3 separate regions of the Homo sapiens genome follow, and regions 2 and 3 are each linked to region 1. Evidence: fine-mapped expression QTL. A gene starts in region 1. Each other region holds a variant in brackets. All regions are shown on one strand. Distances are from middle to middle.

Region 1 (5,000 bases):
CCCACAGCACGGAGAAATCAGTTTCTTCCTGTATAAAATAAAGATATTAACAGTATTTATCTCGAAGCGTTAACTAGATAAATGGGATATTATATATATAAAGTCTGGCGCAGTGCCTGATTATGGTAAATGCTCAGTAAGTTAACCGTTTGACATTAACTACCAGCCATCAAACATGAAAGTAATGTTTAAAGACTTTCAAACACCAACATGCAAAGCCTTTACCCACTAAGTATAAATTCCTCGATTAAAAAATTTTTTTTTCCACAGAATACCTGCGAAGTTTCTAAACCACTGGGTTGGGATTCTAATAATAGCTGAACCCTGAATGGTGGGTTATAGAGTCAAGCTATTAAAAGACATTCAGTAGACTCCAAGTGCTCCTACTTCAAAAAATAGGCCATAGGCAGAGGCCCCACTGGCTTCCCAGTCTCCCCTTGGGACGTCCCTAGGCTGCCAGGGAACCCCCCTCCTCCGCGCTTAGGGGGAGGAGAGAGAAAGCCTCGGAGGCGGGGGCCGGGGGTGGGGGAAAGCGAGCATCCCTGCGCCTCTCGCCCAGACCCACCTTGAGCAGGATGGACGGCGGCAGCTGGTTGATGTCTGGGGTTTCGGGGGGCGGCTCCCTGTGACAGTCGCAGGGGTTTTCGGGGGACTCCCGACAGTCCGCGTCGCCACATTCATGCTGCTGCTGGGCGGACAAGGGGGCGGTGCCCCCGGCTCGGACAGCGTCCCCGCCAGCTTCGGTGGGGGCACCTTCGGAGGTGGGAGAAGAGGGCGGAGGGCAGAGCGGCTGCGGGGGCTGCTCCGGGGCCTGGCAGCAGCCGGCGTCGGGGGGCCGGGGCGGCGAAGCGCCTCCCCCCGCAGGCCCTCCCCCGCCACCGCCGCCGCCGCCGCCGCCGCAGCCCCCGCCGCCGCAGCGGGGCTGCTTGCAGGGGGTGCAGGCGGGGACCCCGGCCCCCTTCCGCTTGCACACCATTTCGGGGGGCGTAGGGAGCTCGGCCGGTGACGGTGTCGGCCCCCGGAAGAGCTGCACGGCGGCGGGCGGCCCCAGGAAGCGCACCGGCCCCAAGCTGGCCAGGAAGAGACTTCGGCCCTGCTGCTCCCAGGCGGCGGCCGCAGCCAGCCCCAACTCTTTGCAGCAGGAGGCGGGCGACGAAGCCGAGGCGGCAGCGGCGGCGGCGGCGGCGGCCGAGGATAGCAGGAAGCGGCGGGCAGCAGCGGCGCAGTCCTCGGCGGCCAGGGCCGCGTAGCGCCGCGCCAGGTGCTGAGAGGAGGAGGCGGCAGCGTAGGCCCCGTCCCGCGGCGGCGGCGAGAGCGGCGGCTCCTCCTCTGGGCCGGCGGGGGCGGGCGCGCCGGGACTGTGCACGATGAAGCAGAGCATGCAGGGCCCGCGGAAGAAGCAGTCCCGGCTCCGGGGCGCCGCCGGCTGAGGGGGCACCTTGGCTGGGGTCCGGCGGGGCAGCCTGAGGAGAGGGCGCCGGCGGCGGCACCAACTGCAACAGCGAGGCCTCTTCTGGCTCGGGCGGTTACGCGGCTCCTTCGAGAGAAGGTGGCCCATATAGAAGGCCCCGAGGAGGGGGACCGGGACGGGAGGGAGGGAGACCCAGAGAGGCGGGCTCCCGGCAGCGGGGCAGGCCGCTCGCTGGCTCGGCCCCCGGAGGGGTCGCCCTTCCTGCGCACACACACGCACACACGGGCACACACGCGACGGTGGGGGGTGGGCGTCAGCTGCGGGCCGCCGGAGTGCCCGACGGGGGCTACATGCTTTGCCCAGGGAAGCCGGGAGAACGATGGGCGCGAGCTTTGGGGACGCGAGGGAGGGAGCGAGCGAGCCTGCCGGCTAGGCGACCAGTCCGGGCCCGGCCAGCCGGCTCAGTCAGTCAGCGGAGCGGCCGGGGAAAGGCCGGGTCCCGCTCGGACCATTTTAACTGCGGATCCGCCGCCGGCGCGCGCACCCGCGACTCTGCTCGGAGCCGCAGGAGCGCGCGGCCCGTTCCGGCAGGGGGCGGAGCCAGTTGCGGTGGCGCGCTCGTGGCGGGGACGCCGGCACCCGGCTGCTCACCCGGGACGGCCGTCACACCGGCACTACGGGAAGAAGCCGGCCGGCTAGGGCACGGAGCTCTGGGCTTGCGGGGTGCGGCGCACGCCCCTCCCTCCCACCGCCTAAGGTTTTTCCGAAGCTGCTGGGCGTGCGCCGCGTTTCTGAGGCGGGAGGAGACACTTCCGAGCCAGCTGTGTGACATCCGTTTACACAGCCGCGCTGACGTCTCGAGGTGTAAGTTCAAGAGCTGCCATTGGCCGGGAGCCGCTGGGCTCTTCCCCTCACCTTCCACCCCTGTCACCACCCCTGACTCGGAAACCGAGGCCACTTCGAAGCCGCGAGGCGGGTTCCGCCGGAAGGGCCAGTGTGGGCGCTGACCGCGCTTCGGGCAGAGTGGCAGATGCGGCCCCTGGGTGATGCGCACCGAAGTCATGTGAGGGGTTGATTGGTTGTGCGGCACCACTGTTTACCCACTTGTGTTTTCTTAATTGTTGCGTACTACTGCCTTTCCACAACTTTATTTCAGAATGAAAGCATATATCAAATTACCTGTGCACAGCAGAAAGATAACAGCTTCCCCACCCAGTGAGCCATTCAACACCCAGGCTACAAACTGTAGATCACTTTATTGTCTACACCCTCGGAATCCTGTCTAGCCGTCTGTTGTATATTTTAAACATGACGGTGCAGTGCCTGCTATATGACAAACGTTGGTGATCCAGATGAGAAAGAGGAAACAGCTATGCAGGCAGTCCTTTAGAAGGTTTGACTATATCGAGGCTAAAGAGCTAGGGCAGCTGCTAGAGCGGTACCTGGTGCGGAGAGGTTAGCTTTCACAAGCGAAAAATTAGAGGAGGCAAATACCATGGGAATGAGCCACTCTAGTGAGAGAAATAAGAGGAGAAGGTGGAATGGAGAGTGCTTTAGGAAGGATACTTTCTTCATTGTGATTACAGAGAATGAGGAAAGGTAGATAAAGGACGGATACAGAGAGGTGGATGTTTCTAGCAGGAAGGTGAAAGAGTTCCTTTCTGTTGGTTTCTGTTTTGCTTCAGATAGAGCTTGGTTACCTGCTGAAGGGTGGAAGAGAAGTGGCAGGTGTTTAAAAAAAAATCTGCTAAGGATAACTTGAGAGAGCTGACTGAGGAAGAAGTATTGCAATATTCAAGGCCCAGTGGCTTGGAGAAGACCACTGTTGGAACCTACATTGCTATTCCCACTATAGTGGCCAGCCCCACCCAGCCTGCTCTCAAACATGCTGTCAAACAATTGTTAATTCTGGCCTTTTTGTCAGAAATGACCAATCTTAAGTCTGTCACATTCAGGGATCCTTTCAGAGCCTAATGACAGTTATGTGGAATTCTAGAAGCAAATATTTGTCAAAAGATTTCACAGACATACACGCTATTCACTATCAAATGCATTGCCTGAACGACATTTACGTACACATATAATCCACATAACTTTCATCCATTTGCCTGTAGGAGAATCTTCCAGGGCCCCAGAGCAGTGCTTGAGGACTTATTACAGATCCTTTGACATCTCTACTAGGCTGCACTTTCACAAAAGGCAAGAGTATTATAAAGTGTTTTGTAACTTTATGTCAAAAATATGAACCTGTCAGAGCCAGATGTGGTGGTACCTATCATTCAAACTACAACAGGGCTGGTGAGGCGTGAGGATCGCTTAAGCCCAGCTTGTTATGATTATGCATGTGAATAGCCACCGTAGTCCATCTTGAGCAGCGTAGCGAAACACAGTCTCTTAAAAAAAATTGCGACCTATACATTTCATATAAGTTAAATACACATCTTCCCTATGAGCCAGCAATCCCACATCTAGGTATTTATCCAGAGAAATAAAAGCATATATCGATAAAAAGACATGTACAAAAATGTCCGTAACAACTTTATTCATGGTCACCAAAAACTATAAACTGCCCAGATGTCCATCAGTGGGAGAACGGATTAATAAACTGATATATTCATCTAATTAAATACTACTCAGCAACACAAGAGAAAAAGCATGGATGAATCTCAAAAAGTTAGGATGTTTTATGCTTTCTGGATACGGGGCCCTCGAATCGCTACCTGGTAACAGGCTCCCTATGTGATTCCTGTACAGACAGCCTGGCACCATGCAAATGTATCAGAACTACACATACCATCCAACTTCAACTTCTTGTTTTTAGAGATGAAGCAACTGACTCTGAGAGTTCTGAAGTCGTTGCTAAAATTTACAATATTTGTTTCCTTACTCCCAGTTCCTAAACCATTCAACCACAAGCAAATTGTCTTTGGTCTACCTATTGGACTCTGTGCTGACAAAAGATACTTGTTTTTTTATAATTTAGATATTTTGCATGTCTGTTCTCATCACCCACCATCATCACACCACTAGTTCTCCCCAGAAAAAATTTCAGATTCTTTGAGGCTTAGGATTATCTCTAACCCTTCTTTTTATTTCTTTACCACAGCAAATAGCAGAGAGAGTCTTGTATAGTTCATCAGTGATTAAATAAGCTACTACTATTATCAGGAGAGCTGTAATGAGTTTTGGAACTCAGTACCCTAAATAATAATACTAATGTTGTAAATGTTAAAGATACAGAATTATGAATAAGAGTCATAAATTAGAATTATAGAGACAGTTGTAGCAGCTGATGGCTTTGCTAGTTGGGGGGCAGAGAGGGTGGAGTTGCAGTGGAAACCAACTCCGGACAGCCAGGAGCTGGACTGGCACTATTAGCTAGGCATTTGTGGTACTGGCAGCTGTCCTGGCATTCTCAGTTCTCATTGTTTTGTCAAATATAAACAGTCCCACAAAACATCAACATCAGTTATAGTCATTTTATGACTACAATAGGCAAGACAAAAATAAGACCCCTCCACAATCATGTCTGAACACAGCAAATACAAGAACAGTCTCTAAACCACAAAAATGACCAAACATTCTGGTT
Region 2 (5,346 bases), 190 kb before region 1:
GAATGGGCTAATATAGGCGCAGTGGTGTATGCCTGTAGTCCCAGCTGCTTGGGAGGCTGAGGCAGAAGTATTGCTTGAGCCCAGGAATTGTACCTAGGAAACACTGTGAGACTCCATCTCTGAAAAAAAAATGTCACCTTTAAGAAAGGGTTTAAATGTTAATGTTTCAGATGGTTTCTCCAAATCATTAAAATCAACCACAAATGTTGCAAAAATGTTAAAGTGACAAATAATATATCATTACAAACTTACAAGCATGGCAAAAAGCAGGTATGTCTTAGATGGATAACAAAGAAAAAATTCAACAGCCTACTATTGTTACAATTGTTGAGGCAAATATTTGTATTAAAGCACCTAAAAACTTTGCTGCACTTATAAGCAACAGATGCATTAAAAGTATAGATCTAGATGGTTTTCAAAACTTAAACATAACAATTTGAAAAGGCACAGCTGTATTCAATTTTAGTTATAGACATGCCTTGTTATAATAATTAATATTTCCTAAATGTTTTCCTCTAGAAAAGTATTTTTAACATGTTACAATGGTTACCTGTCATTTATGATCCAGTTCAGACAGAGATTGAGAGAGCTAAGATTTTTGCACCTCTTGACAATTTCCATCACGGTTTCATTATCCAGTTCAGTGATATGACGTAGGTCCAAGCTGGAAAGGTTTCTTAGCTAATGAGATAAATAAAATGAAAGATGAAAAAGGTAAATGCTACATTCACTCTCAAAACTTACAAATGTAGTTTATTACAAGGTAGAGTATCACTGTAAAATATTTAAAACAGATAGGCTAGAATCTTTTAATTAAAGATATTGTATATGTAATATTTTATACACTAAATTAAGCATGAGTGTAGTATAGAAATCTATGGTGAATATCTGAATGGCAACAAACATTAAAAGAAAGTAGATTTGGCCAGGCGCGGTGGCTCACATCTGTAATCCCAGCACTTTGGGAAGCTGAGGCGGGTGGATCACGAGGTAAGGAGATCAAGACCATCTTGGCCAACATGGTGAAACCCCATCTCTACTAAAATACAAAAAATTAGCTGGGCGTAGTGGTGCATCCCTGTAATCCCAGCTACTTGGGAGGCTGAGGCAGGGGAATTCTTGAACCCGGGAGGCAGAGGTTGCAGTGAGCCCAGATCGCATCACTGCACTCCAGCCTGGCAACAGAGTGAGACTGCGTATCAAAAAAAGAAAAAAAAAAAAAAGAAAGTAGATTTTACTTAAGTATCCTAAAAATCAAGTTAGCAATCTATTGTCTAATAGGTAGGCAAGGTATTGAATATATTACATTAAGTACCTACAATTTGAGAAGATTATTCTAACATTGTTCAATTTCAGATATTACCTTCATAATTATGCCATTTCTGTATAGATTTTTTTATTTTTTTAAAGATGAAATATGACTAAATGGTTAATTCAGAGATAGCTTGGTGATATATTATCAATGTACTCCAAACTGTACTATTATGGGTATGTGTTTCATCATAAAATGATATAAAATGTGGCTTAAGAAGCAAAAATTTCTCCAGGTTCCACCTTCTCCATGTTTTCATTTTCTATTTCTTTAAGTTTCTTGTCTTCCGCTGATGTTTAGCCTCTAAAGCAAATTAATGATAATATTTACATAAAGGTGGTAGGATCTTAATTATCCTCTTCAAATAAGCTACCTTTTCAAATATTAAGCTATTTTTGCTTAATAATATGCAAAACTTAATCTGGAGGCATATGATAGACCAAATAACACAAATACCCCTCCCACCAAAGATACCTATGCTCTAATATGTTACCTTATAAGGCAAAGGGGATTTTGCAGATGTGATTAAAGGTATGGATCTCAAGATGGGGAGATTATCCCAGGTTATCTGAGTAGTCCCAGTGTAATCACTGGAGACCCTTATAAGCACAGGCTTACTCAGAGAAAGCCAGAGAGATGAAATGGAAGATAACAGGAGATGTTTCAATCATGAAAGGGATTCAAGCTACCTTTACTAGCTTCAAATATTGAGGAAGGGGCCAGGAGTCAAGGAACATGGGCAGCTTTAGAGTTGGAAACAGCCCTCAGCTGCCAGCCGGGAAGAGATAAGGACCTCAGACTTACAACCTTAAGGAATTTAATTCTGCCAAAAAACCTGTAGGAGTGAGCAAGAAAACAGATGCTCCCTTCAGAAACACAATCCAGCTGACACCTTGAATTTAGCCTGGTGAGACCTGTGTCAGACAGGCTTCTAACTTACAGAATAGTGAAATAATAAACTGGTACTGTTTTAAGTTGCTAAGCATGTGAGAATTTAAGTCAGTTCAGCTTAAACTCCAAGAGAAGACTAGACACTTGAATCTCCAATGAAAATGTTCTATATTTCTGCTGTCTGATATAGTAATCACTAATCACTTGTACCTACTGAGCACCTAAAATGTGACCAGTGTGACAGGGGACCTGAACTTTTAATTTTATTTAATTTTAATTAATTTGTATTTAATTTTTATATCTGCATGTGGCTAACAGCTACAGTGTTGGTGGACAGGACAGCTCAAAAGAATGGTCATTGGGAGGGTAGGAGGTAAATTGCCAGGCAGTACTCACACTCTTTCCACCTCAGCTCCCAATGGGAGAAGCTATACAGAGAGAGTTCATAGAGTCACTACTCAATGCTCTCTGAAGCATGCTGCCCAACTATGGAGATAAATAGAGATAGCTGCGACAGATAAAACACAAAAAGGTCCACAACAGCAGGTAAATTCTTTCTAACTGAGACAGAAAGTGTATGTACCAGCTTCTTCTAAGGGCTAGGTTGTAGGCATTAGTAAAGGCAGAGCTTCAGGAAAAGCTCTCTGCAATTGGCTTATCAGGTAAGATGTTCAAGGAAGTCACGTCCAGTCTAGTATGGGACTCAGCAAAATGATGCTC[C/T]AGAACAGAGGCAGGTCAAGCAAAGAAATGGGTTCTTACAAAGTTCCTATTCAATAACCACAGGTTAAGGGTTTTAGCAACATCAGAACATAACTGGTACTTGGCAACCAAAGCACACAGGAACGGACTCATTCTTGTTAAAACAGACCTTTCTGGCTGTCTCAGCAGCTTCAGGCAACTGACCAGTCAGAACCTTGGTCAACTCCCTCAGTTTCCCCTTCCTCAAGGTTCACCTTACTGAAATAATTATAATCAATACTAAGCCCAGGGCTCAAAGGTGAGCTGTTTGGGCTCTAAAGTTCTGCTGCAAACATAGCGCCTGTTTCCTATATCTTACCTCTCATTGTAGCTTTTTTTTTAAGTATCTAAAGGTACATAAAAAAGACAGACAAATAAAATACAAAATAAATAGCAAATAAGTTTCTATAACTTTTCTGACCTCACTAGAATTCACCTAAGGGAACAAAGGGCTGATATGAACGCTCTTTGCTGTGCTTTCTTCCTTTCCAATATGTGATCTGCATGTGGTGGGCACAGAAATTGAAATCACCCACAGTCATGGCTGGGCTTGGAGCAAAATGGAAGGCCAACATCTTTTATGAACAGGAGACACCAGAAGGATAGATGGCTATGTACATTTATCAACTCACTAGTTCTGTGGGTCAGGAGACCAGACATGGCTTAGCTGTGTCCTCTGCCTAGGGTTTCGCAAGGCAATCAAGATCTCAACTGGGGCTGTATTTCTTTCTAGAGCTGAAGTTCTCTTACAAGCTCATGTAGTTGCTGGAAGAATTCATAGGATGGGATGGGATGGGATGGGATGGGATGGGATGGGATGGGATGGGATGGGATGGGATGGCAATAAAATGAAAGAGACAATGGTAAGAAAAAAAGCACAAGTCTCAGACTCAGTGTTTTTTTGTTGTTATTTTTCATGAGAGGACGGAAAATAATAGTCTGAAAGCAGCTATGCAGAGCAAAGAGGATCTTTGCCCCCACCTCCTGACCCTGAGAGAAACACAGTGAGAAAATAAACAGGTATGGTAGGCAAAATTCTAAGATGATCCCAATGGCCTATGCTCTATCATAATCCCTGCCCCCTTGAGTGTGGACAGGACCCACGATTAGGATGGAAATTCTCCTTACACAGCAAAGAGATTTAGCAGCTATAATTATGGTTCCTGATTAGTTGACACTGAATGAATCAAAAGGGAAAGTATCCTAGGTGGGCCTGACATAATCAGTTAAGCCCTTACAAAGGATCTAGAGGTCTGAGAAATTATCCTGCTTGGTCCTGAAGAACTAAGCAACTGTGCTGTGAAAAAGACTATGAGAGCCTTCTGGGGATTGGCCACTGGCTGAGGGCCAGCAAGAAAATAAGGGTGTTAGTTCTACAACCACGAGGAACTGAATTCTTCAAGCCACTACATGAGCTTGTAAGAAGACTTGAGCTTTAGAAAGAAATACAGCCCCAGTTGAGATCTTGATTGCCTTGTGAAACCCCAGGCAGAGGACACAGCTAAGCTATGTCTGTCTGGTCTTCTGACCCACAGAACTAGTGAGATGATAAATGTACATTGTTTTAAGCTGCTAAACTTGTAGTAATTTGTTGTGTATCAGTAGAAAACAAATGCAGGAGGGCTGCGGTGACGTTGTATTGCTGAAGAAAAGCCAGGCTTCACTCAAGACAAGGGGAATATCCTTGCCCACTTTAAATGCTGAAGCTCTCTGTCCCTCTTCAGATACTTATGCTCACAAAAGCACAGAGTGAGAGGCTTAGTCCATTCAGTCTTCTCCTCTAGGCTTGTCTTCAGCTTCCAAGAAAATACTTCCTAGAAAACAGTCAGTTTTGATGTGGCCACTCTTGTCAGAAGAAAGAGAAATAGAGAGAGACAGAGAGTCTGAGACAGAGACAGACAGAGATATCTAGAAAGTGGGGAGGTCTTCCTAAATTTCTTAAACCAACCCTTACTCATGGGAAGATGGGTTTAATGGAAACACTTTATGAAAATACTTGCACAGCTTCTGGCTTTTACTCAATTCATACTTGTCAATAGTCACATGCTTCCATATATATCTTAACACAGGTTAACTGTCTTTTTATGTTCCCTAAAGTTTTATTTTTCACAAGATTTTGCATTAGGGCTAGATAGGTGGATAAAATGGTTTCACTGGTCAAGTTCTCTTGTTTTTGATTGAGCAAAGATGAATTTGTATGTGTCAAGGATCTGAGTCACTCTTAAATTTGATAATCCTCATATTACTGTCCCCCACACTTCTATTTTCTACCTAAAAATCACCATTTTTTTAAACCACATTGTCTTTACAGCTAGCTTTCTTTATAGGGCGTTTTTGATCTCCACACCCAAAAAGTTTTTATCACTGTTGGAAATATACTGTTCTGTAACATGTAAAAAGAACCA
Region 3 (5,346 bases), 140 kb before region 1:
TCATTGTAACCTGGAACTCCTAGACTCCAGCAATCCTCCTGCCTCAGCCTCCCAAGCAGCTAGGACTAAAGGCAGGTGCCACCATGCCTGGCTAGTTTGTTGTTGTTGTTGTTGTTGTTGTTGTTGTTGTTGTTGTTGTTGTTGTCATTGTAGGGATGAGTTTTTGATATGTTGCCCAGGTTGGTGTCAAAGTCCTAATCTCAAGCAACCCTCCCACCTCAGCCTCCAAAAGTGCTCGGATTATAGGTGTAAGCCACTGTGTCTGGCCTATAACTCTGACTTTAAATTAGTCCTATGTAATTATTTCATCAAGCAAACTAGAAGCACAAAGCAGTGAAATATTTTAGCTTTTAATTATAAGAAATTTCAAAAACAAAAAATGAAAGTTGACAAAAATAGTGAAATAAACCTCCATTTAACAGTCTTTTAGCTTCAACAGTTACGAATTCATGGCTCACTTTGTTTCATGGTCAGCTTCATCTACTTCCAAAACACATTTAAGTATTTTAATATATCTATAAAAGATAAGTCTCTTTAAAAATCATAACCATAATACCATTATTATATCTAAAAAAATTCAGCAAAAATGTTCATGTGAAACTTATGAAAAAGGAACTAAGAATAGTTTTATGTAGCTAATAATACACTGAATGATTTTTAAATCTCATTAAAATTTTACCACAGCTTTATAAAAACTGACCCTTTGTCAACAAGGGCTTTGGAATTCATAGCTAATCATTTTCTAACTATTTAAAACTCTATTAGCATCCAACGAGAATCTGATAATTCGATTGTTTATTTGAACTTCCCTGATTTTTGTTCATTCTATCTTGCTTAGTGCTAGGCTGGATTTGGAAAAGTCAGATTGGCTGATAAAAAGAGATTGATAAGTTATGTGTTAAAGTATTGTGAAAGAGAAAGACATTGGTCTACAACTAATGACACAGAGATCTGTCCCTATTAAAAAGACCTATGATAAGTTAAATACGACCTAACCACTTTCCTTCAATTTGCTGACCAAATTTCTTTGACTAATATTGCTTTTATTTATTGCAATTTAATATTGAGATAATCCAAATGAAACAGCTTATTCTCTGACTGTTCCATCTTTAATTAATGAAAAAGGTAATTCAAAAAGTAATCTACTAATGTAACAGCCATAGGTGTGTATAGCAGTAATGTTTAGAAAGCACTTTTTGTCACACACATACACATTTGTACAGTAGCTCACTGAGATCAACAGGCAGGTGCAATTTCTGTTTTACAAATGAAGAAAGAGAGAAGTTAAAGTAATCTTCCCAAGATTATACGTGAGCCTAGTAGGTATTTCATCAAAAAACAATTAATCATTTGGTTAAGTGTTTTAACTCTCTGAAAGTAAAGAAACCTTCTTCCGTTTTGTCAAACTGTATTTCATTTCTAAATAAGATATTTAAATTAACAGATACGGTTAAAGACTAAAAAAGAAATGTACAAGAGTATTACTGAAGGCTAAATTAAATCTACCATACAGATCACTTACCAAAAGTTGATTGTGTGGCTATATCATGTGTTATATACAAAAATAGAAAAACCAGAAATAGTATATACAATTTGAATTCTGAATCCTCTAATCATAAAGGATGAGATGAACTTAAGTCTCAGAAGGGTAACATATAAAGAACAGTGGAAGAGCTCTGAGCAGTGGCAGAGCTAGTTAGTATTTCAAAAGGCATGCTAAAATTCACAAAACCAGGGAAAAGCCAGCTATGATAAAGGCAATGTATTTAGACTTTCGAACTGTCTATGGTTCTTTTCCTACCTATGTAACTTTGCTTTCTGTGTTTTTATTCTTCAGCCTCTTCCTGAATACCTTTTCTTCTCCATGCCATTTGTTGTCCTCACACCTTTTCTCCATTTCCATCTGTCACTCTACCTCCATTTACTAGTTCTCTTTTCCTCATATTTCTTCTGAATCCTTTTGCCCATTCTCATATCCTTTCTTAACTGGCTGGTCATAATATGGAAGCATTTTAAGTATAATTCTTATATTAATTTAAAATCAGTAATATTAAACTTTTATTTATCTCAAAAGGAAATTTAAGTTTATATAACCCTATGAAATTACTGGAATGTGTGTCTAGGTTGCAATCCAGCTCCACTTCTTACTAGCTACGTGACCTTAAGGAAGTTATTATCTGAAAAGTGTGAAAATGAGATACCAACCTAAGGGGGTTCTTGTGACAATTCCTTCAGAAGACCTGCATGCCATGCGTATACTATACAATGCGCTTAACAAGGGCTACCCACTATTCAATGTACAAACACTTCCTTTCTCTATCTACATGGAGCTGACATTTTGAACACTACTGGGCACTAACTTATTTATATCATTGTACTTGATAAAATAGAAATCACTTAATGAAAATCTCCATTATGACATGTTGCACCTACTCTCCAAACCATTAGAAACAG[A/C]AATGACAACAATACATAAACTGTCCTATTCTATATTTATTCATGAGGCTGAAGTTATACATCAGGGGGAAAAAGTGCAAGTTAAACAAAACTTCCAGTTAGTAAAATATCAGTAACAAGTTTAACTGTATATAACAGGTTTACCTGTATTTTGCAATATATTTAAAATTATAGGTAATTTTTGAAAGTATCCAAATAACTGTTTGATACTTGAATATGGCAGCATATTCTACTGTTGTTAAAGTCTCTGGAAAGCAGAACAATGTGTATATACTCAAAATTAGGCTTTGTAATGGTCTTAAAGATATAAAATCTTGAGTAATAAGCAAAATAGTGAAGTTTCTTATTTGTAAAGGAAATATATCAGGAAGGTTTCCACTAAGGTATTTAACTCATATAGATATGAATAGACTTGATTTAAATGTATAATATTCCATAACAACAAAGAACATACCCATCCCTGGAAGTCTGATGTATAATATGCAAAAAGAAAATGCACAGAAGCAAGAGCACGACCTTCAAAAAGTCACCTGTGTTTGTGAAAATATTTCAGACTAGACTTTAATATTTTAACAGGAGAAAATGCTTCCCAAGATGAATAAAATCTAACCAAGGTATAAAGCCCTAATAATCTGTATTTTAATCATAAATGGAAGACAATAATTACTTGTTAAAAAAAAACAAACACCCTGATGTATGAATATAGAACATTTCTTACATATTCATGTTAACATTCCTTAAACAAGAAAACCGATCATCAAAAAACAAAATCTAAAATTAGGTTATACATTTTTCATCATGTCAGACAAATAAATTCACAGCTCACTAAATGTTCTTTCTTACACTTCAAACAGCTTATAAAATCCCACCTCCTTTAAATAAGGTTCTCCAATAATGGGAAGTAAGATGGAGAATCCACCATCCATCGTAACTCAGTCCCCTTGGCATAAACACTTAAACTCTACAAAGAAAACCATGCTAGTAACAGGAAAGCACAGAAGACATTTTCTTTGTCACTTTTGGCAGAGAGGAAAAAAAGAAGTCTTTTATACAAATCTGTTTAACTTTTTTAAATTAGAAGGTCAGAAAGGGCAGAGCTCACATTGTACAACATCAAGACATATACTCATCTCTCCAACTGGAGGGGTCAAAGGAAGTTTTGGGGTATTTTCATGATAACTCTTCTACCCAAGTCCAAGTTAACATATGTAAGTAGCACAGGGCCTGACTGACAGTAAGTACTCAATAAATATTTATTGAATACATGAATGAGTTAAATCAATCCAGTGCTTTGATTTGGACCTCAGTGCCTCACAATGTCTGTCTCTCCCACACAGTTTCTTCAGTTTCTGGCCCTTTTCCTCTAACTACAGGAATTAAAATCAAGTACAAGAGGTTGGACAAGGAAGAGGTGCCATATACCTAGAGTCCTTCTTTACTCTCCCAGCACAAATCTCTCCCCCCTCCTCATAATTTCAAAAGATACACATTAGAAACTGTCAAGCACTAGAGGCTGGGCATGGTGACTCACACCTGTTATCCCAACACTTTGGGAGGCCAAGGTGGGAGGATCACTTGAGCCTTGGAGTTCAAGACCAGCCTGGGCAAAATAGTGAAACCCTGTCTCAAAAGTAAATAAGTAAATAAGCAGGCAAGCAAGCAAGCTGGGCACGGTTGTGCACACCTGTAGTTCCAGGTGCTTGGGAGTCTGAGGTGGAAGGATCACTTGAGCCCAGGAGGTTGAGGTTGCAGTAAGCCATGATCATGCCACTGCACTCCACCCTAGCTGACCCTGTCTCAAAAAAATAAAAAAAGGGCAGACAACAGTTTCTACAACTTCAGATGGTTAAGACTTGCATCCAGAGTCAAAAGGACTGGATTTGAATCAATCATTTCACAACCCAACAGTCACATACTTAACCTCTGCTAACTCTAATAATCTCGTAAACAGAATTGCCATAGGGCATCTCCCATTGAGTTGTAAGGATTAACAAGGATAATGCAAGTAAAGAATTCACATAATATAAACTTGGTAAAATTGCTTTAAATCAGTTAATTTGGCAAAAGATAGAAAAGATTATATGTTAATCTGGAGGAAATACCTAAATTTTCAGAATTTCATTTAAGAAACAAAATCATCAAGAAAAGCATATATTTGCTCAATGATGTATTTGGATTAGTTTTGTTGAGGAGACTCAGTCTCTTGAAATATTAGGTAATTTGTACTTACCTAATATTGTGGAATTCACTATATTCAGAGTATACATGAGTGAAATGAGGGCCTGACTGGGAGTAAATATTAAATGTAATTCAATTCACAAATGTTCACCACCAACTACATAGTAATGCACACTTTCAAAAAAATAAAGGCCCTGTCTAGTATATCTGTGTTTGCAATGGTAGTGATGGTGGGATAATGTGCACAAGTATCCACAATAACATGAGATAAATGCTAAAACGATTATGTAAAAATTGCCCTGGCTTCGAAGAAGAGAAAGCAATTGGTTTTATGTATTTGGATTCCCATTTGGTTCTACATAAAACGAAGATAGAGGATACAAAAGGAGAGCCTTTCCAAAGATAATTCCAGAGATGGAAATGAGGTAGGGACCATTGTAAAGAAAAAAAAAATAGGGACAAGGGCCCAGAGATGTGAATGTACAAAGTATATGAGAGAATAAAAAAGTGCAGGTATCAAATTCTGGCTTTGCCCTAGACAGCACTATTAACAGTTGGTCACATTATTTAACCTTCTGTATCTCAGTTTTATTATCTGTAAAATGGAAATTAGATTATTAGGCTAAGGCTTTCTCATAAATAAGGTCATTCTCCTAAAAATGTAAGGTATCATTGTTAAGACATAACTTTTTTCAGATTCCTTTTAACCTCAGG

Alleles and levels. Alleles are on the strand shown, and positions count from the first base shown. SD is a standard deviation of normalised expression in the study named. Not every link is listed here.
In carriers of allele C in region 2, the expression in anterior cingulate cortex of the gene that starts at base 1,965 in region 1 tends to be higher than with T alone (small effect, 0.30 SD a copy in GTEx).

Evidence for each region. PIP is the estimated chance that this variant, and not a neighbour inherited with it, causes the effect. A credible set is the group of variants that fine-mapping cannot tell apart.
Region 2: its variant is the best candidate, but not a certain one, in a credible set for the expression of FBXL17 in anterior cingulate cortex (GTEx, PIP 0.55).
Region 3: its variant is the best candidate, but not a certain one, in a credible set for the expression of FBXL17 in whole blood (INTERVAL, PIP 0.80).

Annotation. Positions count from the first base shown.
Region 1 is chr5:108,380,134-108,385,133 of GRCh38, forward strand. FBXL17 (F-box and leucine rich repeat protein 17) reads right to left here and starts at 1,965. Exons shown (of 9, transcript NM_001163315.3): 1 at 566-1,965. The coding sequence starts at 1,558. RefSeq lists silencers at 816-895, 916-1,665, 1,866-2,115 and an enhancer at 2,216-2,335.
Region 2 is chr5:108,185,567-108,190,912 of GRCh38, forward strand. FBXL17 (F-box and leucine rich repeat protein 17) reads right to left here. Exons shown (of 9, transcript NM_001163315.3): 6 at 551-681. Among named protein-coding and RNA genes, the nearest start is that of FBXL17, 190 kb to the right of the region's middle. The variant C/T (reference allele first, on the strand shown) is at 2,924.
Region 3 is chr5:108,242,254-108,247,599 of GRCh38, forward strand. All of the region lies in intron 4 of FBXL17 (F-box and leucine rich repeat protein 17), which reads right to left. Among named protein-coding and RNA genes, the nearest start is that of FBXL17, 140 kb to the right of the region's middle. The variant A/C (reference allele first, on the strand shown) is at 2,455.